Homo sapiens: one gene and its partners. The protein of the gene in region 4 interacts with the protein of the main gene of each other region in a biochemical or structural test. Each region holds a gene or a part of one and is shown on either strand. Other genes may lie near its edges. The genes, in order: ANKRD13D, SMAD5, PDLIM7, SMURF1, UBE2D2, AXIN1 and PLEKHO1.

The links.
Region 1: of the proteins of SMURF1 (region 4) and ANKRD13D, one has a biochemical effect on the other in vitro, tested with the Homo sapiens proteins (one large-scale study listed by BioGRID).
Region 2: of the proteins of SMURF1 (region 4) and SMAD5, one has a biochemical effect on the other in vitro, tested with the Homo sapiens proteins (3 studies listed by BioGRID, with this or other methods).
Region 3: the proteins of SMURF1 (region 4) and PDLIM7 are reported together in a solved structure, tested with the Homo sapiens proteins (2 studies listed by BioGRID, with this or other methods).
Region 5: the proteins of SMURF1 (region 4) and UBE2D2 form a complex in vitro, tested with the Homo sapiens proteins (3 studies listed by BioGRID).
Region 6: of the proteins of SMURF1 (region 4) and AXIN1, one has a biochemical effect on the other in vitro, tested with the Homo sapiens proteins (2 studies listed by BioGRID, with this or other methods).
Region 7: the proteins of SMURF1 (region 4) and PLEKHO1 form a complex in vitro, tested with the Homo sapiens proteins (4 studies listed by BioGRID and IntAct).

What each region holds. Positions count from the first base shown.
Region 1 is NC_000011.10:67,295,803-67,299,302, reverse strand, and holds part of ANKRD13D (ankyrin repeat domain-containing protein 13D), read right to left. Parts: intron 246-3,500; coding exon 179-245; intron 1-178. UniProt on the Homo sapiens protein: Ubiquitin-binding protein that specifically recognizes and binds 'Lys-63'-linked ubiquitin. Does not bind 'Lys-48'-linked ubiquitin.
Region 2 is NC_000005.10:136,139,345-136,142,844, reverse strand, and holds part of SMAD5 (mothers against decapentaplegic homolog 5), read right to left. Parts: intron 1-3,500. UniProt on the Homo sapiens protein: Transcriptional regulator that plays a role in various cellular processes including embryonic development, cell differentiation, angiogenesis and tissue homeostasis.
Region 3 is NC_000005.10:177,482,894-177,485,249, forward strand, and holds the end of PDLIM7 (PDZ and LIM domain protein 7), read right to left. Parts: intron 1,298-2,356; coding exon 1,177-1,297; intron 1,090-1,176; coding exon 974-1,089; intron 838-973; coding exon 751-837; 3' UTR 501-750; downstream 1-500. UniProt on the Homo sapiens protein: May function as a scaffold on which the coordinated assembly of proteins can occur. May play a role as an adapter that, via its PDZ domain, localizes LIM-binding proteins to actin filaments of both skeletal muscle and nonmuscle tissues.
Region 4 is NC_000007.14:99,137,609-99,141,108, forward strand, and holds part of SMURF1 (E3 ubiquitin-protein ligase SMURF1), read right to left. Parts: intron 1-3,500. UniProt on the Homo sapiens protein: E3 ubiquitin-protein ligase that acts as a negative regulator of BMP signaling pathway. Mediates ubiquitination and degradation of SMAD1 and SMAD5, 2 receptor-regulated SMADs specific for the BMP pathway.
Region 5 is NC_000005.10:139,620,339-139,623,838, forward strand, and holds part of UBE2D2 (ubiquitin-conjugating enzyme E2 D2), read left to right. Parts: intron 1-3,029; coding exon 3,030-3,123; intron 3,124-3,500.
Region 6 is NC_000016.10:342,724-346,223, reverse strand, and holds part of AXIN1 (axin-1), read left to right. Parts: coding exon 1-76; intron 77-3,500. UniProt on the Homo sapiens protein: Component of the beta-catenin destruction complex required for regulating CTNNB1 levels through phosphorylation and ubiquitination, and modulating Wnt-signaling.
Region 7 is NC_000001.11:150,152,916-150,156,415, reverse strand, and holds part of PLEKHO1 (pleckstrin homology domain-containing family O member 1), read right to left. Parts: intron 351-3,500; coding exon 210-350; intron 1-209. UniProt on the Homo sapiens protein: Plays a role in the regulation of the actin cytoskeleton through its interactions with actin capping protein (CP).

The DNA of each region.
Region 1 (3,500 bases), on a different chromosome or scaffold from region 4:
CCCATGATGTGGGTGAGCCCTGTGTACTCCGCAGGGGCTGGGCACTCAGGCCCGCTGAGTTCCCACAAATGCTCAGGGTTTCCAGAGCCCAGGGGCTACTCTGGGATGGATGTGGAGAGGAGCTGAGTTCCTGGACCTCATCTCCTACCCCCAGCCCCCCACCCCTAGCCTCTCCTGCCTTGGCCTCGTAGCCGCTAACAGTTTCCATCTTCTCAGACCGCCAGCCCCAGATACCACATTTGTTCCTGAAACAGACCAAACAGGAGCTGGTGAGACCTGCACCCTCACACGCTGGCCAAAGCCTTCCTTTCCAAAGCCCCCTCCAGCCAGCCTGCCCGGGGTGCCCAACTCTCAGGGCCCCTTCTCGCTATGAAACATGGAGGACCCCTGAAGAGGGTGCCTGGACAGGGGGGGACACTTGAGCATGGACTTGGGACTAGAAGACACTGAGGAATTAGCATGAATCTTGTGAGGTATGATAGTGTCGGGGCTGGGTTTAAAAACATCCTTGTCTTTTAGAATTGTGCAGAAGCATTTACTAGAAACATTAGGACATCTGGGATGAGCTTTGACACACTCTAGGAAACATTTTTAAAAAAGGTAAGGAAGGATAGATTCAGTAAGATTGGCAAGATGTTGATAAATGTTGAAGCTGGGTGATGAGTAAGTACATTATCTCTTCTTTCATATATGTTTGAAATTTTCCAAAATAAAAAGCTAAAAGAAAAGTATGTCAGTTGGAGACTCCAGTACCCCACTTTCAATAAGGGATAGAACAACTAGAAGATCAACAAAGAACCAGAAGATAAGAACAACACTACAGCTGGACTTCATAAGCAGGCTAGAACACTCTACCCAATAACAACCACACACACGCTTCTCACGCGCACACGGAACACTCTTCAAGGCCATACACTAGGCCATTAAGAAAACCTCAATAAGTCCGGGCGCGGTGGCTCATGCCTGTAATCCCAGCAGTTTGGGAAGCCAAGGGGGGTGGATCATGAGGTCAGGAGATCGAGACCATCCTGGCAAACATGATGAAACCCCGTCTCTACTAAAAAATACAAAAAATTAGCCGGGCACGGTGGTGGACGCCTGTAGTCCCACCTACTTGGGAGGCTGAGGCAGGAGAATGGCGTGAACATCGGAGGCAGAGCTCGCAGTGAGCAGACAGTACCACTGCACTCCAGCCTGGGCGACAGAGCGAGACTCCGTCTCAAAAAAAAAAAAAAAAAAAAAAAAAGAAAACCTCAATAAAATTGAAAGGATAGAAGTCATACAATGTATGTTTTCCAACCACAATGGAATGAAATTAGAAGTCAATAGCAGAAAAAAAAAACTTTGGAAATTCACAAATATGTAGAAAGTAAACAACACACTCCTAAATAGCCAACGTCTCAAATAATAAATCAAAAGAGAAATCAGAAAATACTCTGAGATAAACAGGAATAAAGACACAACATATCAAAACTTATGGCCGGGCACGGTGGCTCACGCCTGTAATCCCAGCACTTTGGGAGGCCGAGGCAGGCAGATCACAAGGTCAGGAGATGGAGACCATCCTGGCTAACACAGTGAAACCCCATCTCCACTAAAAATACAAAAAATTAGCCGGGCGTGGTGGCAGGCGCCTATAGTCCCAGCTACTCGGGAGGCTGAGCCAGGAGAATGGCGTGAACCCGGGAGGCGGAGCTTGCAGTAAGCCGAGATCGTGCCACTGCACTCCAGCCTGGGCGACAGAGCAAGACTCCCTCTCAGAAAAAAAAAAAAAAACCAAAAAACTTATGAGACACAGGTAAAGGCCAGGCCAGGCCCGGTGGCTCACGCCTGTAATCCCAGCACTTTGGGAGGCTGAGACAGGCAGATTGCTTGAGCACAGGAGTTCGAGACCAGCCTGTGCAACATGGTGAAACCCCATCTCTACTAAAAACAGAAAAAATTAGCTGGCGCCTGTGTTCCCAGCTACTCAGGAGGCTGAGGTGGGAGGATCACTTGAGCCTGGGAGGCGGAGGTTGCAGTGAGCTATCACACCACTGCACTCCAGCCTGGGCGATGGAGTGAGACCCCATGTCAAAAAAAGAAAAGACATGCCTAGAAGTATAAATGTAATATGTGTGAATGCCTATATTAAGAAAGAAGATCTCAAATCAATAACCTTAACCTAACCTTCCATGTTAAGACAATGGAAAAAGAGCAAACTAAACCAGAAAGAACAGAAAGAAATAATAAATATTACAGTAAAGGTTAATGAAATAGAGAATAGAAAAATAATAGAGAAAATTAATGAAACCAAAAACTGGCTCTTCGAAAACATCAACAAAATTGACAAACCTTTAGCTAGGTTGACCACGGTGGGCAAAAAAAGAGAGAGAAGACTTGGCTGGGGGCGGTGGTTCACACCTGTAATGTCAGTGCTTTGGGAGGCCAAGGCAGGAGGATTGTTTGAGGCCAGGAGTTCAAAAGCAGCCTGGATGACATAGTGAGACCACATCTCTACAAAAAAAGAAAATTAGCTGGGCTTGGTGGTGCATGCCTGCAGTCCCAGCTACTTGGGAGGTTGAAGAATCACCTAAGCCCAGGAGTTCAAGGCTGCAGTGAGCTCTTATCATGCCACTGCACTTCAGCCTGGGTGACAGAGTAAGACTCTGTCTCAAAAACAAAACAAAACAAAACAAAACAAAACAAAACAAAAACTTCAAATTACTCACCAGAATCAGAAATGAAAGAGGGGAGCAACAGAAATAAAAAGCATTATAAAAGGATACAATGATAGCTGTACACCAACAAATTTTATAATTTAGATGAAATGGACAAATTCCTAGTGAGACACAAACTACCAAAACTAATTTGAGAATAAATAGATAATCTGAATAGATGGATAACAAGTCAAGAGACTGATTGGTAAATATAACAACAAAAAACTATACACACATACACACACACACACACACACACACACACTCAGGCCCAAATGGCTTCACCACTGAATCCTACCAATCTTTTGAAGACAAATTAATACCAATTATTTGCAAACTATTAAAAAAAATAGACAAAGAGGTGACATTTTCCACTTCAGTTATGAGGCATCACCCAGATACCAAAACCAGACATATATCACAAGAAAACTACAGACCAATATCACTTATGAATATGGACACAAAATCCTCAACAAAATACGAACCAACCAAATCTAGCAACATATGAAAAGAATTATACACCACAACCAAGTGGAACTTATCACAGGAATGCAAGGTTGGTTCAATATCCATAGGTCAATTGATGTATCAATAGAATTTTTTAAAAAATCACATGATCATATCAATAAACACAGAAAAAGCATTTCACAAAATCCAACATCCTTTCATGATAAAAACACTCTAACAATGAGGAATGGAAAGGAATTACCTTAACCTGATGAAGGGTATCTACCAAAAACTCACAACTAATATCATACTTAATGGTAAGACTGAATGTTTTTCCCCTAAGATGAAGAACAA
Region 2 (3,500 bases), on a different chromosome or scaffold from region 4:
TGCCATTTAGCCTATCACTTAGTTTTATCCTATATTTATTTCCATATGATAGCCAACAGAAATAGGGCATTAAAATTGAGTTTAAAAAAATGTACACCAAGCACAGAGAGCCAATAATTGAACAGACAGGAAGGTATGCTCCTTCTTACACTAGAAACTGGAGGGACTTAACAGCTATGAACCCATTATCTGCTATTATCTTGGCCTTTCATAGTATACCTTTGGTTTATGAAGACTTGACTTGATAATACCCTTTTATTGATGTATTTTGTCATTTCTTAGAGAAATGACCTCAAAGCTAGAAAGAAAACCAAGGTAATCATAATATTTAGAAATTCCTGTGTACGTGAGGTTCCCTGATTCTTCTGAAAAACTGCAACCACTGACTGAACACAGAACGTCATTAGTGTACCAAAAGAGATGCAGTGGTACCTCAGCCATAAATGAAAACCTTATAAAATTACGGTATATCATGAATTACAAATGAATCTATCACATTACAAAACACACACACACCTCACCTCTCTTTCAGCTCAAGCATCCCTTCTTCGGGGAAGTCTTCCCAAACCGTCCTGGCTAGAAGTCCCCCTCTTATATGCTTACCGCATCACATACTCCTACTTTGTAGCACTTACCACACCTATGTTTTTACATTTACCTTTCAAATCTGTCCCCACAAGAATGTAAATTCCACGAGAAGAGCTGTATCTGTTTTCACTCATCACTGTAAGCCTAGTGATACATATGCTCAATAAATATTTGTTTAATGAAAGAAAGGGTTTGTGATATTAGCTCTGGTGGTGGGGTTAGGTGTACTTTTCACTTTCTGCTTCATCTAATTCTATATTTTTTAAAATAAACATATTTCTTGAAGAGTCAGAGGAAAAACAGGTTTCAAAATTAAAGTGCAGCTATACCTCAGCCATATTATGAACCCTTACTAAAGAGAGGATTTACATTATCATGAGTCATTCCTGCTTCAAAACAATTCTCTCTAATATACTTGGGGTTATACAAATTTGGAGGTTGAAACTAAGAAAAATCAAATCAGAAACTAGGTACAAATACTTCCATAACTATAGTACTCTAGGTTAATCAACAGAAATACAGAAATGATTATCATAAGGTACACCTACTTCTTTAAGTATATGTGCATTAACTGACTCAGCAGCTATAACAGCCATGAATCATTAAACACTTATTGAGCACCTACTAACTAGCAGACATTGTAGGACATGCAGGGGTTTATCAGCACTAGCCAAGGGTGAAGGAATAAATGAGAAGGCCTTTTTCTAAGTCCCATACAAAGGTACTATATGAGTGAAGAGTGGGAATAGCAAAAATGCAAACGGGACAGAATCTCCCTTCACAGAATAACGTAGCACGACAGACACCAAACTATACCCCTATATGTAAGTACAATGAGATAAACTCAAGTTACTAGAGGAACACAGAGAGACAGAGAAAGGGCATGTAATCCAGGTATCTAGCACTTTTCACAGTGTGTCCTGTTACTACAAATGAGCTGTTGCTCCTCAAAACAATGAAATCAAACTCCAGAAGCATTATTCCTGCTCCCAATAAATATTAGTAAGAACTCATTCTTCAAAAGCATTTATCTTCCTATACTGGAATGTCTTTTGAACCTCAGATATTACAAATGCCATTTTCTGCTTATACCACTTTTCTTAATCCCTGGCCACTAATTTTTAGCTCTATCGTTATTTAAGTCTCAGCTTTAGCTCTCATCCCAGATACCTTCCCTGATCACCCCATAATCCTATATAGAGTTTCCCTAATCTCTAATCCAATACTATGTTCATTTTCTTCACTGTATTAACTGATTCATAATAATTTGTTCATTTACTTTATTTCTGTCTCTCGCACTAGAATATAATCTTTAAAAAACAGTACCACATACATTACAATAACTTGTCAAATTCATTCAAGTCATTCATCCAAAAGAATATTTATTAAGATAGCATTTTAGGAGCTGGGAATATAGAAGTGAATAAAAGGAACCAAAACACTTGTCTTCATTTAGCTTATATTCCAGCAGAAGGAGGCCAACGAGATATAGTAAATGATATGTTTGTTAGGTGAAAAGTGCTATAGAGAAAAATTAAAACAGGGGAAGGTGGACAAGAAGTCCTGGAAGAGAGGTGTAATTTTAAACAGGGTGGCTGGGCTGGGTCTCACCAAGAAGGTGCCAACTGAGTTAAAATGTTAAGGAAATAAAAGAGTGAGCCAACAGGCATATATCTAGGGGAAAACCATTACAGGTAAAGGCAACAGGCAATGCAAAGATCCTAAGGTAGGAGCATGTCTGGCATGCTTCTGGCATGAAGAGCATATACTGGCTAGAAGACCAGTATAGCCTGAGAACACAGTGTACGAGGGGGAAAAGGTAAGGAGTGGGGTCAAAGAGATACCAGAGAGCCAGAATGGCCATGCTGGATATAAAGGCTTTAGCTTTTACAGTACTCTAAGGAAACTGTGAACTCAGTGGAGAGCTCTGAGCACAGACATGATAGTTCTCGACTTACACTATTAAAGAATTATCCTGGGCCGAGGTGGGCAAATTACCTGAGGTCAGGAGTTCAAGACCAGCCTGGCGAACATGGTGAAACCCCGTCTCTACGAAAAATACAAAAATTAGCTGGGTGTGGTGGCATGTGCCTGTAATTCCAGCTACTTGGGAGGCTGAGGAAGGAGAATTGCTTGAGCCCGGGAGGCAGAGGTTGCAGTGAGCCAAGATCATACCACTGCACTCTAGCCTGGCCAACAAAGCTAGACTTCATCTCAAAAAAAAAAAAAAAAAGAGTTATCCTGGGCCAGGCGTGGTGGCTCATGCCTGTAATCCCAGTACTTTGGAAGGCCAAGGCAGGAGAATCACTTGAGCTCAGCGGTTCAAGCCTAGCCTGGGCAACATAGTTTTTAAAACTCCATCTCTACAAAAAAAAATTGTTTTTAATTAAAAAATTAGCCAGGTGCAGTGGCACATGCCTGTGATCCCATCTACTTAGGAGGCTGAGGTGGGAGGATCACTTGAGCCCAAGAGGTCAAGGTAGCAGTGAGCCAAGATCATGCCACTGCACTCCAGCCTGGGTGACAGCACAAGACTCCGTCTCAAAATAAATAAATAAATCCTGGCTGGTATGTTGAGAATAAGCAGGAGGAGGGGTGGACAGCAATGATAAAAGCAGCGAGACCAGTTCAGAGATGCAGTAATCTAAGGGAGGGGAGAAGATGACGATGGCTTACAACCAGGGTGATAGCAGTGGGGTGGTGAGCAGCAGACATATGAAAGACAGTAAGCTTCCTGATGAAGGAGATCATGGGGTGTATGAGAACAAAGGAGTTAACAATGATTCCAAGGTATCAGCCTGGACAACTGGAAGAATGGGGTTTGACATCAACTGATTTGGCAAATGCAGATAAGAAAGCTAAAGGAAGATTCAGGGTTAAGTTTTATACACATTAACCATATGAATAAAATG
Region 3 (2,356 bases), on a different chromosome or scaffold from region 4:
CAGGCTCGCGCGCAGTGGTGTGATCTCAGCTCACTGCAACCTCCACTTCCCAGGTTCAAGTGATTTTCCCGCCTCAGCCTCCTGAGTGGCTGGGATTACAGGCATGCCCCACCACACTCGGCTAATTTTTGTATTTTTACTAGAGACGCTGTTTCACCGTGTTGGCCATGAGGTCTCGAACTCCTGACCTCAAGCGATCTGCCCACCTTGGCCTTCCAAAGTGCTGGGATCACAGGCATGAGCCACCATGCTAACTACCCTTCCTAACTACCCTTCTCTAACCTCCAAGCCAGGCCAGACCAGTGGCTCCCCTCATGTCTGTGGGCACCGGGCCTGGCACATGGGGTCTCGCCTGTACCTCCTCCACTAACCATGAGCCCGCCATGTCTGCATCACGAGGACCACCCAGATGGCCAGCCCAAGAAAACCATCTTACTCTCCACCCTGCCACGTGCCTCAAATTCTGCCCCTCCGGATGCACAGGGGAAGGGCACACAAGACACAGCTGGGTACAGGTTTATTGTGGCACTGGAGGTGAAAGGGGGCTGGTGTGGCCAGCACCGGTGTGCTGTGGTGGTGGAGGGAGTGGGGTGGGAGGATAAGGTGGGTGGGGCAGGGCCCAGGGAGCCCCAGGCTCGGGCCAGGAGCCAGGGTTAAGGCAACCATTGCCAGCCCTACCCAGAAATGCAGGGCCACGACTCCAGGCCCCTCAGGCTAGGGGCCACCGCGGCAGCTGTGGGCAGAAGGGGCTCACACATGAGAGAAGGCATGGCTCTTGCAGAGAGGCCTGTCCTTCTTGGAGTAGAAGGTCTTTCCTTCCAGGTTGATCTGACATATCTAAGGACAGCAAAGGCCCAGTCACATGGGGTTGGGGGCAGCAGGAGAGGCCCCTTCCCAACTTCTCCTGCATCTCCTGGGGAATGAACAGAGGGCCGGTGGGCTTGGGGCTCAGTTCGAGGGGCGGGGCTCTCACCGCACAGACGAAGCAGGTGTCATGCCAGCTGAAGCCCAGGGCCTCCAGGAAGCGGTCCCCAGCGTCGATCTTGAAGTCACAGCCATGGCATTTCGTGCCAAACATCTTCTCATAGTCTGAGAATGGGGGCAGAGAGAAAGAGGACCTGGATTCATGCCTGCCCCATGCACCATCCCTCCTCACCCTCACTGGCCAGTGGGTACCTCGCTCGCAATAGGGCACGCCCTCCTCCATGTAGAAGGCCCTGTTCCGGATGGGCGTCTTGCAGGCAGCACAGGTAAAGCAGTGCACGTGCCAGGTCATCTTCAGGGCGTGCATGATCTCCTGGAAGGAGGTCCCAGTCACTCGGCAGGCTCAGGCCCCTCCTGCCCTGCCCTGGGTCACGGGAACACAGGAGGGCTGGCCGCAAGCCCTGTTCCTTCTCGCGGTAAACACTACATCTAACTGTTCAGGACTCCCACACCTCCATCTCCAACTCCAAGGTCTCTGAGTGGACGACCACTGCGCCTTCAGACTTGCCATGTCCAGCACTCAGTTCCTGATTCCCTCACCCCAAACCTCTCCTCCCACAGCCATCCCCATCACGCGGATGGCAACTCCATTCTCCTGTCTGCTGCAGCCAAACACACCCTCCTCTCACACCCCACACCAGGTCCACCAGGAAATCCAGTGGGGCCCACCCCCAAGGCACATCCAGATTCTGAGTGCTTCTCACAGCCTCCCTGAAGTGAGGTAAGCCATGGCCATCTGGCCCGTGGGACCACATAACAACTGGCCTACAAGCTCCTCTCTCTGATCCCAGCTGCCACAGCGTGCCCCTGCAACCCAAGACAGGCCTTCTCCCCCTGCATGAAACTGTGTACTGCTTCCCATTGCTCCCAGCAAGAGCCAAGCCCCATGCAGAGGCTGGAGGCCAGCAGGTCTGACCTCGTTCCCAACCGTCTCCGCCACTGCTCTCCCTTGCGTTCTCACCTTGCCTCTGCACACTGGCCTCTTGCCTGAAACTGGCACACCAGGCACACTCCTGTCCTGGGCTTGACACCGGCTGTCCCCTCTGCCTGGACTGCTCTGCCCCAGATATCTCTAGGCTCACCCCTCACCCCCTTCAAGTTTCTGCTCGAATGCAGTCTTCTCCATGAGGGCCCACTCTGACCACACCAGCAGCAGCCAGCTGCCTTCCCTGCACCACGCACCCCAGCACTTGTCGCTCTGCTCTTTCCTGTTTTCCGTAACGTGATCTAACATTACTTCCAGGCAACCTACTTATTGCGCTTATTGCTTACAGTCTGCCTCTCCCCTCTTCTTCCAGCCAAAATGTAAGGCCCAGAAGGGCAGGAAGCATCAACTGTTTTGTTAGCTGATCTATCCCCACAGTGCCTGGCC
Region 4 (3,500 bases):
ATCACCCAGCAGCCAGGAGGATAGGTTCCTGCTCAGTGATAAACGATGTTGCCGACATTCCTCAGCCAATTAGAATTCCTTTCAGCTGCAGTGGAGGTGAACACAGCTGGAATTACAGAGTGGGGCGCGTCACCAGACGCGCTGATTATACATTATTTAAGCCTTGTTTTAAAACAATATGAGGGTGTTTTTTCCCCCATTAGTCCAGAAATGTGGAAACAACATTCCACTTGGTTTAAATATCTAAATGGATTAAATTGCATCTGGAGACAAAACAGTAATAGTGACATTTTAAAAAGAAGATATGCCCAAGCCCCATAGCTATGTGCTTTTGTTTTTTAAACATAGCTCCATGGCTTTCCTTTAACTAGAAAGGCCTTAGGGACTTTAGTCAGTCAGAATGAGTTCCCTGGACAAGAAGCTAATTTAAGTTGGAGGCTTTCACTTACAAATTCACTTACAAAATAACAAACCAGTAATTTAAAACTTGTTCAGTGACAAAAAAAAAAAATTGTATATTCCTTGTTTAAAAAAAAATTAGCCTCTAAAATGGTTTTGAAATTATAAAAAATTGATCCAAATAAGCATCCTAAAAGTTAGCTGTCTTACCCAGCAAATCAGAGCATGGCGAAGATATCAAGTTATTTCATCCATTTGAGGCTTTTTTGAACCACTGAATAAAACGCACAATTCAGCTATTTTAACTGTTAACCAGTGCCCACGATGTTGTACAAAACAGCCAGTCTAGTTAACTGGATCACTGAGGTGATATTGAAACACTATTTGTCGTTTTGTCTTTTTTTCTTTCTTAATCCATGAGGAAATATTTCATAAATAACACAGCCTCCAAAACCTTTCTTTCACCCAATTTTCCACACTAGAACCTGACATTGTGACTGAACCGAGAAAATGAAAATGTGTGGAAGAGAAAGAAAAACCCAACATTCAGAAAGGACTTTTGTAACTGCAAGACTAGAGGTTTTAAACTCTGACAGATGGACTTGAAGTTAAAAATCCTAGTTTGATAAATCACAACTACTGTAAAAATGGAGATAGAAATAAAGCATATGAAAGATTTCATGTCTAAAGTCAGTTGGGTGGGCCAAGAAGATTAAAAGGAAAAAAAAATGGATTTGAAAAAAGAAAGTTGTTCTAAAAGGCAACACAAATGTGATCAAATCACAAAATCAATGACAAAAACCTCTATTTGGCAGAATGTGATTCTTCTTAAAGTATAATTGCAATTCAAGTTTTGCAACAGCATTTGTTCTAACCCATCCTACACCTTCCAATAATTCATCTCAAAGAACTGCCTTAACTGTATCTTCCTAAACTTGAGGCAGACCCTAAGGAAAATGTAAATGCAAAGGGAGCTAAAAACTGACCACTTATTCCATCTTATCACAGCAACTGTGTTATATGGTTTTTGAAACAAAAGTTTTGCCTGCCTCACATAAGTGAGGTTCTTAGCTGGTACAAATTGACAAAGTCAACAGTCTTAACAATTTTCTTAATCTTTCTTGAGAGACTTAACTATTTTGAATCAATTGAGACACCTGTAATTCATCAACCAACATCATCAACAGCTATTACCACAACTATTTCACTCACAGTTGCACCATCTGAATGCCAAAACACAAGTCACCCTTACATCCCACAAGCTACAATTTTAAAAACAACCTCATATTTCCACATGCTATCAAGGAAAGTCTCTTTGTTCCTCTCTGTTTGGAATTAGAGTTTTTCTTACTTCACAATATGCAGTCATGCTCCAAAAGATATAAAAACACCAGGATATCTGAGAGTATTTCAATGCATAAAAGCACAAAAAAGTTTAGGCACTTGTATTTCAACTAATTGGTTGACATTACAATAAAATTTAATTTTCTTGAAGAGCATTGTAGAACCCTGAATTCCATTCTTTTACCCAAAGTGGCCTAAACAATGTGTCTGGGATTCATTTGTGTACCAGATAAGAACAAAGTTTTTGCAAATCCTGCTTGATTTTTCAATCAAAATGTTTCTAAAGTGTTTGATTTGCCAGTGAACTCCAATGACTACAAGATAATGCTCTTTAACAAAAGATCACTTGATTCTGGATATATTATGCCCCTAAACCTACTGAAACCATTTAAAAACTATTTTCCTACTAAAATACCACAAAAACATTCGTTAAAATGTTATTATTTTAAATACAAAGGCTCAAATATTCTTCTACTGTTTAGACCAGGTTGCCAAAGCAGTTCAACATATTACCCAACAGTTTTCAAAAACAATCCCACATGAAGAAATAAAGTCATAAATGTAATCAATACACAAAATTAATGCTTGGCATAAATCAAACACATGTGCTACACTCCAACACAATTTTCTGAATATCAGGATTAAGAATACCACTAAGCCCAAGTGCCCAACAGTAATTTGAAATAAGTAGGTAGCTAAATTGATATATCCTGTGAGAAGGAGGATCAAAGAGTATTATAATGGAGCTGAAATCTCATTTGATATATAAAGAAACTGAGACCCAAAAAGGTTAAATAACTTGTTCCGTAACATGTAGTTAATGAGAAATCTGTCTAGAATCTAGGTCTCCTAACTGTAAATCTAATGCCCTATTCACCCCCAAATAGAATCGTGGACCCCAAAGTTCTAAATGTAGTATCTTCAGTATCCTTTTTTTTTTTTTTTTTTTTTTTGAGACAGAGTCTCACTCTGTTGCCCAGGCTGAAGTGCAGTGGCACAATCTCGGTTCACTGCAAGCTCCACCTCCCAGGTTCAAGCCATTCTCCTGCCTCAGCCTACCCAGTAGCTGGGACTACAGGCGCCCGCCACCACACCCAGCTAATTTTTTGTATTTCTACTAGAGACGAGGTTTCACTGTGTTAGTCAGGATGGTCTCAATCTCCTGACCTCGTGATCCGCCCCACCTCAGCCTCCCAAAGTGCTGAGATTACAGGTGTGAGCCACCGCGCCCAGCTAATTTTTTGTATTTCTAGTAGAGACGGGGTTTCACCGTGTTAGCCAGGATGGTCTCAACCTCCTGACCTCGTGATCTGCCTCAGCCTCCCAAAGTGCTGGGATTCAGGCGTGAGCCACGGCGCCAGGCCATCTTCACTATCTTTGCACTGAATTTCGCTCTGTGTCTATTCATTGACTGGTTGAAATATCCCTCATTTTTAACAGTCTTTTTTTTTTTTCCAAATAACAAACATGGAAATAAACTCTGAAACCTGTAACAAAAGTATTCAAATTTTGAAAGATTGCTTCTCAACATCCCAGAAGTGAGAATTCAAACTTCCCTTAACCAGAAAGATGAGACTAAAACCTATTCCACCGTCAACAAACTTCTAGTTCAAACCTTTCGAGGTAAACTAAGGTTCCACGTACTGGCATTGCATGTGTACCATTACCGCTAAACCGCAATCCTATTGTAAGGATGATCACACTCACAAATCCTCTCAAACCATTCATAACATCTACTGAAAGGGAAAGGGAAAGGG
Region 5 (3,500 bases), on a different chromosome or scaffold from region 4:
CCTTTCTTTAAAACCTGTCCTTTAAAGTTGACTTATTAGAATATTTAGAAGAATAAGTTAAAGGAACATTCAAAAATTTCTAACTTCCCTGTTGTCATTTCCAGGAAATACATGAAGTCTTTCCTAATTGATGTTAGAATGTTCTATGCTTGAAGAGGGCTTCAGGTGATGACACCTGACAATAGGAAAATGTTTTTGGAATGCCAGCTGCCAGAATTGTGGGTAACAGGAATGAAGAGTCAGAAAACATCTCTCCTGATTTTTTAAAAAAACTTTTCATATACTCTTAAGGCAAGGAAATAGCATTTTTGTTACCAAACTGAATAGGGCATGCCAACTATTTCTTTACTTCTCAGAAGCCCTTGATCTCTATAGGATAGATTTGGTAGGAATATGAGCGAATCCTTTCCCTGCTGAATTTATGTGTTGGGAGTAAAATGGGCTGAGAGTTATTATCTCTTGGTACAGAACACCTATTAGAGAAAAGAAAGATGGCTGAGCTCTATTAGCATTAGTATAGAAGGATTTAAATTTATTTTGTCAGAGGCTACTGAACTTAATGTAATCAGTGACTTTATGCCCCCTTTGCATTCAGTAAGGAATGCATAAGTTAATGATAGATATGGCCGGGTGTGGTAGTTCACGCCTGTAATCCCAGCACTTCGGGAGGCCGAGGCAGGTGGATCACTTGAGCCTAGGAGATCAAGACTAGCCTGGCCAACATGGCAAAACCCAACCTCTACAAAAAATACAAAGAAAATTAGCTACACATGGTGGCACTCACCTGTAGTCTTACCTGGAGAGTGAGGTGGGAGGATGACTTGAGCCCAGGAGGTTTAGGCTGCAATGAGCCAAGATCATGCCACTGCACTCCAGCCTGGGCGACAGAGTGAGACCCTGTCTCTAAATAAATACATACATAAATAAATAAATATTTTAAAACATAAGTTAATGACAGATTTGAACAAAGGAAATTACACTATTGAGATTTGTCTGCTACATCCCAGGTTGTCACCGAGGAAATGGCTTAGATGAGATTCTAAATTGTCACTGAAGAGAATTTGAGACATTCATAGAAGTATGTTGTATTCTCTGTAATGAGTGTATGACCATCCCCATTTAGGGGCAAGTGTTTGCATTTATGTTCTTGATTTAGACTGAATTGTTTTCAACTGAAAATTAAACAAAACAATTGTCTGAATGTGGTGCCTGCCACTGGAAAACAGTGATTGTTGGATTTTATGGTTGTCGTTTTTGCTAAGAATATTCAGTAGTGTGGCTGTCTTTTTTTTTTTTCTTTTTGAGGCAGGGTCTCACTCTGTCACCCAGATTGGAGTGCAGTGGTGTGAACACAGCTCAATACAGCCTTAACCTCTTGGGCGTAAGTGATCCTCCCACCTCAGCCTCCTGAGTAGCTGGGACCATAGGAGTGTGCCACCACATCCAGCTAATATTTTTATTTTTTGTAGAGACAGAATCTCACTCTGTTGCCTAGGCTGGTCTCAGACTCTTGGCCTGAAGCGATCCTTCTGCTGTGGCCTCCCAAAGTGCTGTGATTACAGGAGTGAGCCATCGCACTTGGAATTTTGAAAGCCATTTATCCTTGAATATGGGCTTCTAAAAAATTGAACTTTATGGGATCTGAAAAATGTTCTTGGTCTAGAATTTAGACAAAGTTCTAATTCTATTCTAATTACTAGCCAGGGACATTGAACACGTCACTGCACCTGTCTGGGCCAGCTCCCTTAGGAGTTCAGGCATAAAGACAGTCATATCAACTCTTCTTACATCATGGGATTGTTGTGAGACTTTGCACAAAGGGGCTTATATTTGTATCTGGGAGACCAAGATGTCATTTAACATTAATTTTCTGCTATTTGTTTTATTTTATTTTTTATTTTTTATTATAATTATTATTTTTTGGAGATGGATTTTTTGCTGTGTCGCCCAGGCTGGAGTGCAATGCTACGATCTCGGCTCACTGCAACCTCCACCTCCCAGGTTCAAGCGATTCTCCAGCCTCAGCCTCCTGAGTAGCTGGGACTACAGGCACACACCACCACGCCCAGCTAATTTTTGTATTTTTAGTAGAGATGGGGTTTTACCATGTTGGCCAGGATGGTCTCAATCTCTTGATCTCGTGATCCACCCCCCTCCGCCTCCCAAAGTGCTGGGATTACAGGCATGAGCCACTGCAGCCAGCCTTCATTTTTATTTTTTAATGACCTAACCTAAAGTCTGTTTAAGCTTCTTAAAATCCTTGTTGGTAGGCTGGGTGCAGTGGCTCACGCCTGTAATCCCAGCACTTTGGGAGGCCAAGGTGGGCGGATCACGAGGTCAGGAGATCGAGACCATCCTGGCTAACACGGTGAAACCCCCGTCTCTACTAAAAATACAAAAAATTAGCCGGGCGTGGTGGCGGGTGCCTGTAGTCCCAGCTACTCAGGAGGCTGAAGCAGGAGAATGGTGTGAACCTGAGAGGCGGAGCTTGCAGTGAGCCTAGACCGCGCCGCGCCACTGCACTCCAGTCTGGGCGACAGAGCCAGACTCCGTCTCAAAAAATAAAAAATAAAAAAAACTATTTGCCAGGTGTGGTGGCTCACGCTTGTAATCCCAGCACTTTGGGAGGCCGAGGCGGGTGAATCACGAGGTCAGGAGTTCCAGACCAGCCTGACCAACATGGCGAAACCCCATCTCTACTAAAAATACAAAAATTAGGCCAGGCATGGTGGTTCAAGCCTGTAATCCCAGGACTTTGGGAGGCCGAGGTGGGTGGATCACCTGAGGTCAGGAGTTCGAGACCAGCCTGGCCAACATGGTGAAACCCCAATTCTGCTAAAAAAAAAAGAAATAATAATAATAATAATAATCCTTGTTGGTTACTGTTAATATAAAGTTAAGTAAAACTTACAAAGCTGCTAGGCATTACAGTATAAATTCTTAGAATTTTCTCATGTTTTGGCGTCTCATGTTTCTCTCAACCCTTTGCTTTGATCCTCTGCTAATTTATATGATTTTTTTCATTCTAGTACTCTTGTCCATCTGTTCTCTGTTGTGTGATCCCAATCCAGATGATCCTTTAGTGCCTGAGATTGCTCGGATCTACAAAACAGATAGAGAAAAGTAAGTATGGCCTCAAGATGGAAAGTTATCTGTGGTGGGATGGAGATGTTTGTCACAAATCTTTCTTGTTTAAGGGCTGAATATCGGCCAGATATTTAAAGTGAAGTCCTAATATACTCTCCTGGGGCTAGAAAAGAGAAATATATGCATTGAGTATTATTATAAGTAGATGATGCCAGTCTTATCCCTGATTGTTTCACGTGACTCCTCTTGTCTACAAAAACTTTTTTTTTTGTTTGTTTTTTTTTGAGACAGGGTCTTACTCTGTCACCCAGGCTAGAGTGCAATGGTGCAGTCTTGGCTCACTGCAACCTCCGCCTCCTGGGTTCAAGTGATTCTCATGCCTCAGCCTCCCGAGTAGATGGGATTACAGGCGC
Region 6 (3,500 bases), on a different chromosome or scaffold from region 4:
CTCAGAAGCTGCTCCTGGAGACAGCTGCCCCGAGGGTCTCCTCCAGTAGACGGTACAGCGAAGGCAGAGAGTTCAGGTGAGTCCGACGCCAGGCGTCCACTTTCTGTACTCACCTCCGAGAGCTGGAGAACAAGCCAGGGAAAGGTGCTGATGAGGCGGGCGTTAACCCACACCGGATGTCCTGCTGCCGCTGGGGTTGAATTTTGGTTCTGTTCTTATTTGTGATACTTTTGCATTTGTCATTACTTTTTTATATTTGTAATGTTGAGAACACTTTTACTGAGAACAGACTAAAATATATGACTTTATGAGTCATTAGGAACATCGGAATTCTTAGAAGTCACAATGACATGTAAACTTTACCCTTCAGCAGTAAAGTCTGTCACCTCTTAAATAGGAGCTGGATCTACCCAGTAGACATGGTCCTTTCCGCTTAATAAAGGGAGGAGTGGACGTTTCAGGGCATCGATAAGAATTGGAGAATTGGATTCTTGCTTTTTTTTTTTTTTGAGACGGAGTTTCACTTTTGTTGCTCAGGCTGGAGTGCAATGGTACAATCTCAGCTCACTGCAACCTTCGCCTCCCGGGTTTGAGCGATTCTCCTGCCTCAGCCTCCTGAGTAGCTGGGATTACAGGCATGTGCCACCACGCCCGGCTAATTTTGCATTATTAGTAGAGGTGGGGTTTCTCCATGTTGGCCAGGCTGGTCTCGAACTCCCGACCTCAGGTGATCTGCCTGCCTCGGCCTCCCAAAGTGTTGGGATTACAGGCGTGAGCCGCCGCATCCGGCCAGATTATTGCTTTTATAATGATCTTCTAAGCTTCTTCCTACAGGCTGAGAAATAGCAGGGGGGACGTTTTACGTGTGGGGAATGGTCAGAGTACTTTGAAAACTTCCTGTGGCTATAGTGGGCATTCCAGGATTGGGCCTTTTTTCCTGCCAACAAAATCTGTTGGTGCTGTTGTGTAGTCCACAGCAGCCTGGACCCTGAGGCGATCCTGGCAGGGCCTGTGGGGTGCGTGTGTTGCCTGGGAGGGAGCAGAGTGGTGCTCAGCCTTGGAACCTGTTTCTTCGTTCTTCCTTCCCTGTGATCCCTGCGTGGTTCCTGGAGGTTTATTTGGCTTTCGGGCTGGCATCTACTGTGCTTGTGAGCAGAGCGCATGCATTTCCCACTCTTTCCCTAGAGCTGGTGACCGGAGGCTCCGGCCTGTGTAACTTTGAAAGCCTGGAATTCATGTGACCCCTGCTGACCTAATCAAGACTCCGAAAGCACAGCCCCATGTGCTGGGACTCTCCTGAGGAGTTATTAAAAACTCGCATTAGTTCTTCAAGCTTACTGTGACACAGAAATTGGCTACTCGCTCATCAACACAGGATTAAACATGTCTAAGGTTAAACTTGTAGTCTAAGTGATACGATTTAAGATGGACTGTCGACTGGGCGCAGTGACTCACACCTGTAATCCCAGCACTTTGGGAGGCCGAGGCGGGCGAATCACCTGAGGTCGGGAGTTCGAGACCATCCTGGCCAACGTGGTGAATCCTCATTTCTACTAAAAATACAAAAATTAGATAGGCGAGTTGGCGCATGCCTGTAATCCCAGCTCCTCGGGAGGCTGAAGCAGGAGAATCGCTTGAACCTGGGAGGCAGAGGTTGCAGTGAGCCTTGGTTGTGCCATTGCACTCCAGCCTGGGCGACAAGAGGACAAGAGTGAAACTCTGTCTCAGAAAAAAAACAAAAAAAAAACAAAAAAGGATTGTGTAGGTTAATTGGTTAATTTTTTTTTTTTTTTTGAGATGGAGTCTTGCTCTATCGCCCAGGCTGGAGTGCGGTGGCGCCATCTCGGCTCACTGCAAGCTCCGCCTCCCAGGTTCACGCCGTTCTCCTGCCCCAGCCTCCCAAGTAGCTGGGACTACAGGCGCCCGCCACCATGCCGGCCAATTTTTTGTATTTTTAGTAGAGACTGGGTTTCACCATGTTAGCCAGGATGGTCTCGATCTCCTGACCTCGTGATCGCCTGCCTCAGTCTCCCAAAGTGCGGGGATTACAGACGTGGGCCACCACGCCCGGCCTTTTTTCCCTTTTGTTCATTGTCTTTAGCCAAGTGGTATTTATTTAGCAAGCATTTTAGGACACAATATGCCGCAAAGTTATCCTGTTGAGTAAGCCTGGTATAAACTGAGAGTTTCTTTCTTTCTTTCTTTTTTTTTTTTTTGAAATGGAGTCTCGCTCTGTCACACAGGCTGGAGTGCAGTAGCACTATCTCGCTATCTCGGCTCACTGCAACTTCTGCCTCCTGGGTTTAAGTGATTCTCCTGCCTCCCGAGTAGCTGGGATTACAGGTGTGTGCTACCATGCCTGGCTAATTTTTGTATTTGTGGTAGAGACAGCGTTTCGCCACGTTGGCCAGGATGGTCTCGAGCTCCTGGACTCCAGTGATCTCAGCCTCCCAAAGTGCTGGGATTACGGGTGGGAGCCACTGCACCTGGCTGGTTATTTTTTTTGCTTGTTTTTTTGTTTGAGATGGAGTCTCGCTCTGTCGCCCAGGCTGGAGTGCAGTAGTGCAATCTCAGCTCACTGCAACCTCTGCCTCCTGGGTTCAAGTGAGTCTCCTGCCTCAGCCTCCCGAGTAGCTGGGATTACAAGTGTGAGCTACCATGCCCAGCTAATTTTCTGTATTTTTAGTAGAGATGGGGTTTTACCACGTTGGCCAGTCTGGTCTCGAACTCCTTTCCTCAAGAGATCTGCCCGCCTCAGCCTCCCAAAGTGCTGGGATTCCAGGTGTGAGCCACTGCGCCCGGCCCCGGCTGGTTATTTTTAAGATGGGACTGAAGTTGAGGGCTGGGCTGCAGGAGGAAAATGAGCTCCGTTCTGATTTCCACTGTTGGAACCCCAGTGCCTCCCTCCCAGCCACTCTTCAGTTCTTGGCTGCGAGCAGTAGCTTTGCTGTCTGTCCTTGGTTTGCTGTATTTGTAATAAGGAACCTTTGCTATGAAATTAGTGGGATACATTGGCTTCTCCTGTCTAATTTTGTGTAGCTCTGTCTACACAGTTTGGGTCCTAACTTGACTGCTCTGGGGCTGCTGGTGGCAGAGGACCCTGGGGCTTGGGAGTCGTGTCTGCGGTTGAATCCTCTCTGTGGGAGGTGGCCTGTGGTGCAGCCTTGTGGCTTGAAGATCTCTGATGTTGGAATGGTTGCTTGTCAGCACAGACAGGGCATGAAGTCCAGGCTGCGTTCCTCACATTTAGACCATTCTCTTTGTCCTGCCAGGTGTAGGTGAGGGTGCACTAGGTTGGAAGTCGTGGAAACCCACCCACCTGAGCCCAACCCTGAAGGGCACTGTTGAGGCAGAGCCTCAGGTGTGCCTTAGGGCCTGGCACCTTTGCTTTGTGCCATTCTGACTTTGCCTGCCTGGTGGGCGACTTCGTGGGCTTTGTGTTGGAGGTGGCTGCTGCAGTGACCTTGGGCTCTGGGCTCCCTTGTTTACAGATGCTTCCC
Region 7 (3,500 bases), on a different chromosome or scaffold from region 4:
CTTTGTGGCTGAACAGGTTAAAGGGTGGCCTGCCTGGAAAGAAGGAAATGGCTACAATATTCTCAGGTGAAATGATAAAAGCCAGCAGGAGAGCAATTCAGGGAATCTGAACCAAGATTGCTGAGAGAGAAACTGAGGGGAAGGAGTTCTCCCCTGCCCCCTCCAACCCTGTCCATGTTCCAGCAGCCAAGGTGGCAGGAGAAACATACCGTGTTACCGGGCTGTTTGGAGTGGGCAAGAGTAAACTTGCTATGATTTTTCTTGCTCCTGCTCTTGGACTTCCGGAGCTCTTCACACTTCTCATAGTCACTCAGGTCAAATACCTCTTGAATATTTTTCTCATCTTTTACCTAGGGGAGGGTTGGGGTGAGGTGAGGAGGATAAAATTATTTAGCCCCTCCACCCAGACTGTTAGTTTAGATCATCTTGGGAAACAGAGGAAGCCTGAGGAGAGGGAGGCACGCCAGGAGAGGAGAGGGCCGTCTGCCCAAAGCCTACAAGGTCCTCACATCGAGGAGGACGCTAGGGCAGCTCCAAGTCTTGAATGTTAAGGTGTGTTTCTGTTTAAACCCCTTCTCTTCACTCTCCTTAGCCAGGCTGCCATTTCCAGAGTCCCACTATGCCTCTCTTCACCAACCGCCCCACTCTTTTCCTTAAGGACACAGCTTACATGTTCTAAAAAGGCTCACGTCCTTAAAGGGACATGGTAGATGGTTGATCCATTGCCCTCAGTAAGACAGACCTGTATGGCCCTTGATGGTCCACAGAAAGAAGATCAAGGCAGGGCCAGTTATCGGGGTGTCTGGAGGGAACGAGGGGCGGTCTCTGGCCTCCCCACTCACATGTGTGCAGTATAGCTCTCCCACCCCACCTCGCTTCCTTCTCTGGTATGTACAATTATAGAGACTCATCTTCCTTGTTCATTTCAGGAGCATCGCCACCACAGGACGGCAGCCCCGTGTTCAGTTTGCTGAATTTGTCCAGAGAAGCTGAAAACTACAATTACAGTTCCTACCCTTTCCTCCTCCCTCTAAGGTACTGTGACAATCCAAACTAACTCCTCCAGACCCCCTATCTCTAGGCAAGAATGCACTTAGACTCTCCCTGGGAGACTACACTTTAGACTTGGAAAAAAGTGACTTCTGTGACTTCTTGCCATTATTCCAGTTTGAGTGCCTGGGCCCCCTTTACTGCCAGGAAGCTCTTCCTCCTATCTAAACTTAGCCCTCCCTGCTATAGTCTCCGTCCCGCACTCTGGTTCCACCTTTAGCAGGTTTTAAGCAACATTTAGCTCTTAGCACTCCTGCTGAACGTCTCATCGAGGCCGCATTCCTAGTGACATTCTCCAACCCCAACTAGCCTTTTCTGAGCACTGCAAAGCAGCTCTAGGAACATTTCTTCGCAGGTTCATCTGAAACTGACCACAATGTTTTCTCTTTTCCCCTAAGGTGGTGTTCCTACAACTCTGGGACTCTGAAGCAGTGGCTTATGGATTTGTTTTGGCTAGCAAGGACCAAAGTTACAGAGAGGAGACTTAGTTACAAGTCCAGACCGTGCAGTCTGTCCACCCTCCGTGGCTTGAGCCCAGGGTTGGAACACCTCAGGAAAAACCTGGTCACGTTTTCCTGGAATGAGAATTAAAAGCACCAGCACTTGTCTCATTAAAACTAAACAAACAGATAAAAGTAGCCTCACGTCTTCCTTGGATGACATCTACCCACCCTGACTGAAATTATTTTCCAAAACAGTCCCCAACTTCCCAAGTTCTGAAATAGGACTCGTGTGCATGGAGGTGAACTCATCTATCCTCCTGGTTCCTGGAAACCTGGAAGTGGGGAAGTGGTTCTCCCTTCCATTACCCAGACCATCTACAGTCTTGTATCTGCCCATCCTTCTGAACTGCTGCTGGACCTGGAGGCTGATGACAGATGAGGACAGATGTCAACATGGCCCCATTCAGGTGAGTGACGCCTCATACATCTACCTCCATTTGTTTCAGCAAGGCTTGGCTCCTCCAGGGCCTCCCACTTTCCAGGGTTCCCTGGCTTTGGGCTGGAAAGTGGCCAGAGGCCTTGAATGATTACGGGTGGAAGTAGGACAAGGTGCTGGCAAGGGGTGTCCAAGAGCAATTCCCAGAAACACGGGACAGGGATACAAGATGATGCATCATCCCTCCTCTCCCCCTCCTTCTCCAGAGCTGAGACTATCAGCAGAGCCCAGAAACCGTGGAGAGGAAAGTGTTGGGTGTGTGAATGTAGCCAGGGGAAGAGAGTTAACTTACTATGTTTTCCTTAGGGGAAGGGAAGGAAAGGGAGTTATTCTACCTTGCATACAGACTGATTAGGAGCTCTGGGGAGCAGGAGACACTGATAGAGGTTAGCCCTTGGTGGAGAGGGTGGGAGATGGGGTGAGGCAAGCAGTAGGACAAGTATATTCCAGTGCCTGGGAAGATGGACAAAGCCAAGCAGCCTTGTTCTCCACCATATTGTTTTTTTTTTCCCCACATATCTAATTCCCAGAGTCTCATTTATAACTACCCATCTTCCAAATTAACCCTTCCTTTCCCCTGATTCTTCGTCCTTGACTATAGAAAGGGATTTTTCCCACGCCTGTCCAAAGAGTTGCCCCGAATCCAATTTCCTCCACCATGAGGTCTTCCTAAGGTCTAGCTTCTGTTCTTACACATCAGCCTGTGATCATAAGGTGCTCCAGCCCTCTTTGAGAGAGGATGCCCTTTGAGAAGGAAGAAAATGATTACTATCGAACACAGAAGAAATTCTACGGCAGAGGTGGTTGTGGGAGACCCTGCCTTTAAGAGAGGAAATAACAAAAGAGACTGGTGAAAATTCTGGGAGATAGGGTTAGAAATTTTCTTGCATTAACAGTAAATGATATAGATTATACTCTGCCTTAAAAAAAAAAATCTTGGTCAGGGACTGTGGCTCACGCCTATAATCCCAGAATTTCAGGAGGTTGAGGCAGGAGGATCACTTGAAGCCAGGAATTTGAGACCAGCCTGGGAAACATAGTGAGACCCCATGTCTACAAAAAATAAAAAAAATTAGCTGGGTGTGGTGGTGCATGCCTGTAGTCCCAGCTACTCCGGAGGCTGAGGTGGGAGGATTGCTTAAGCCCGGGAGGTCAAGGCAGCAGTGAGCTACGATTGTGACACTGCACTCCAGCGTGGGCGACAGAGTGAGACCCTGTCTCTAAAAAACAAAACAAAACAGAACACCGTGTCTTGATTCTATTGGCCCTGGAGCTTTTCACAAGTGGGCAAAATAAAGCCCAGAGTACTCTGTCAATTTCACTTTTTAACCAGGCCCACTGTAGCATTGAAACTGGCTCTAAAAAAGCACAGTATCAATATGCCTAGTCCCTCTTTCCTGTGCCCTTCCCAGCAGGAGACAGCTGGCTCCATGACCAGTCAGATGGTCCTGACTCATAGGACACCAGATATCCTAGGCTGAGGTCATTCCATCCTTTCCTCTGTCTCTGTA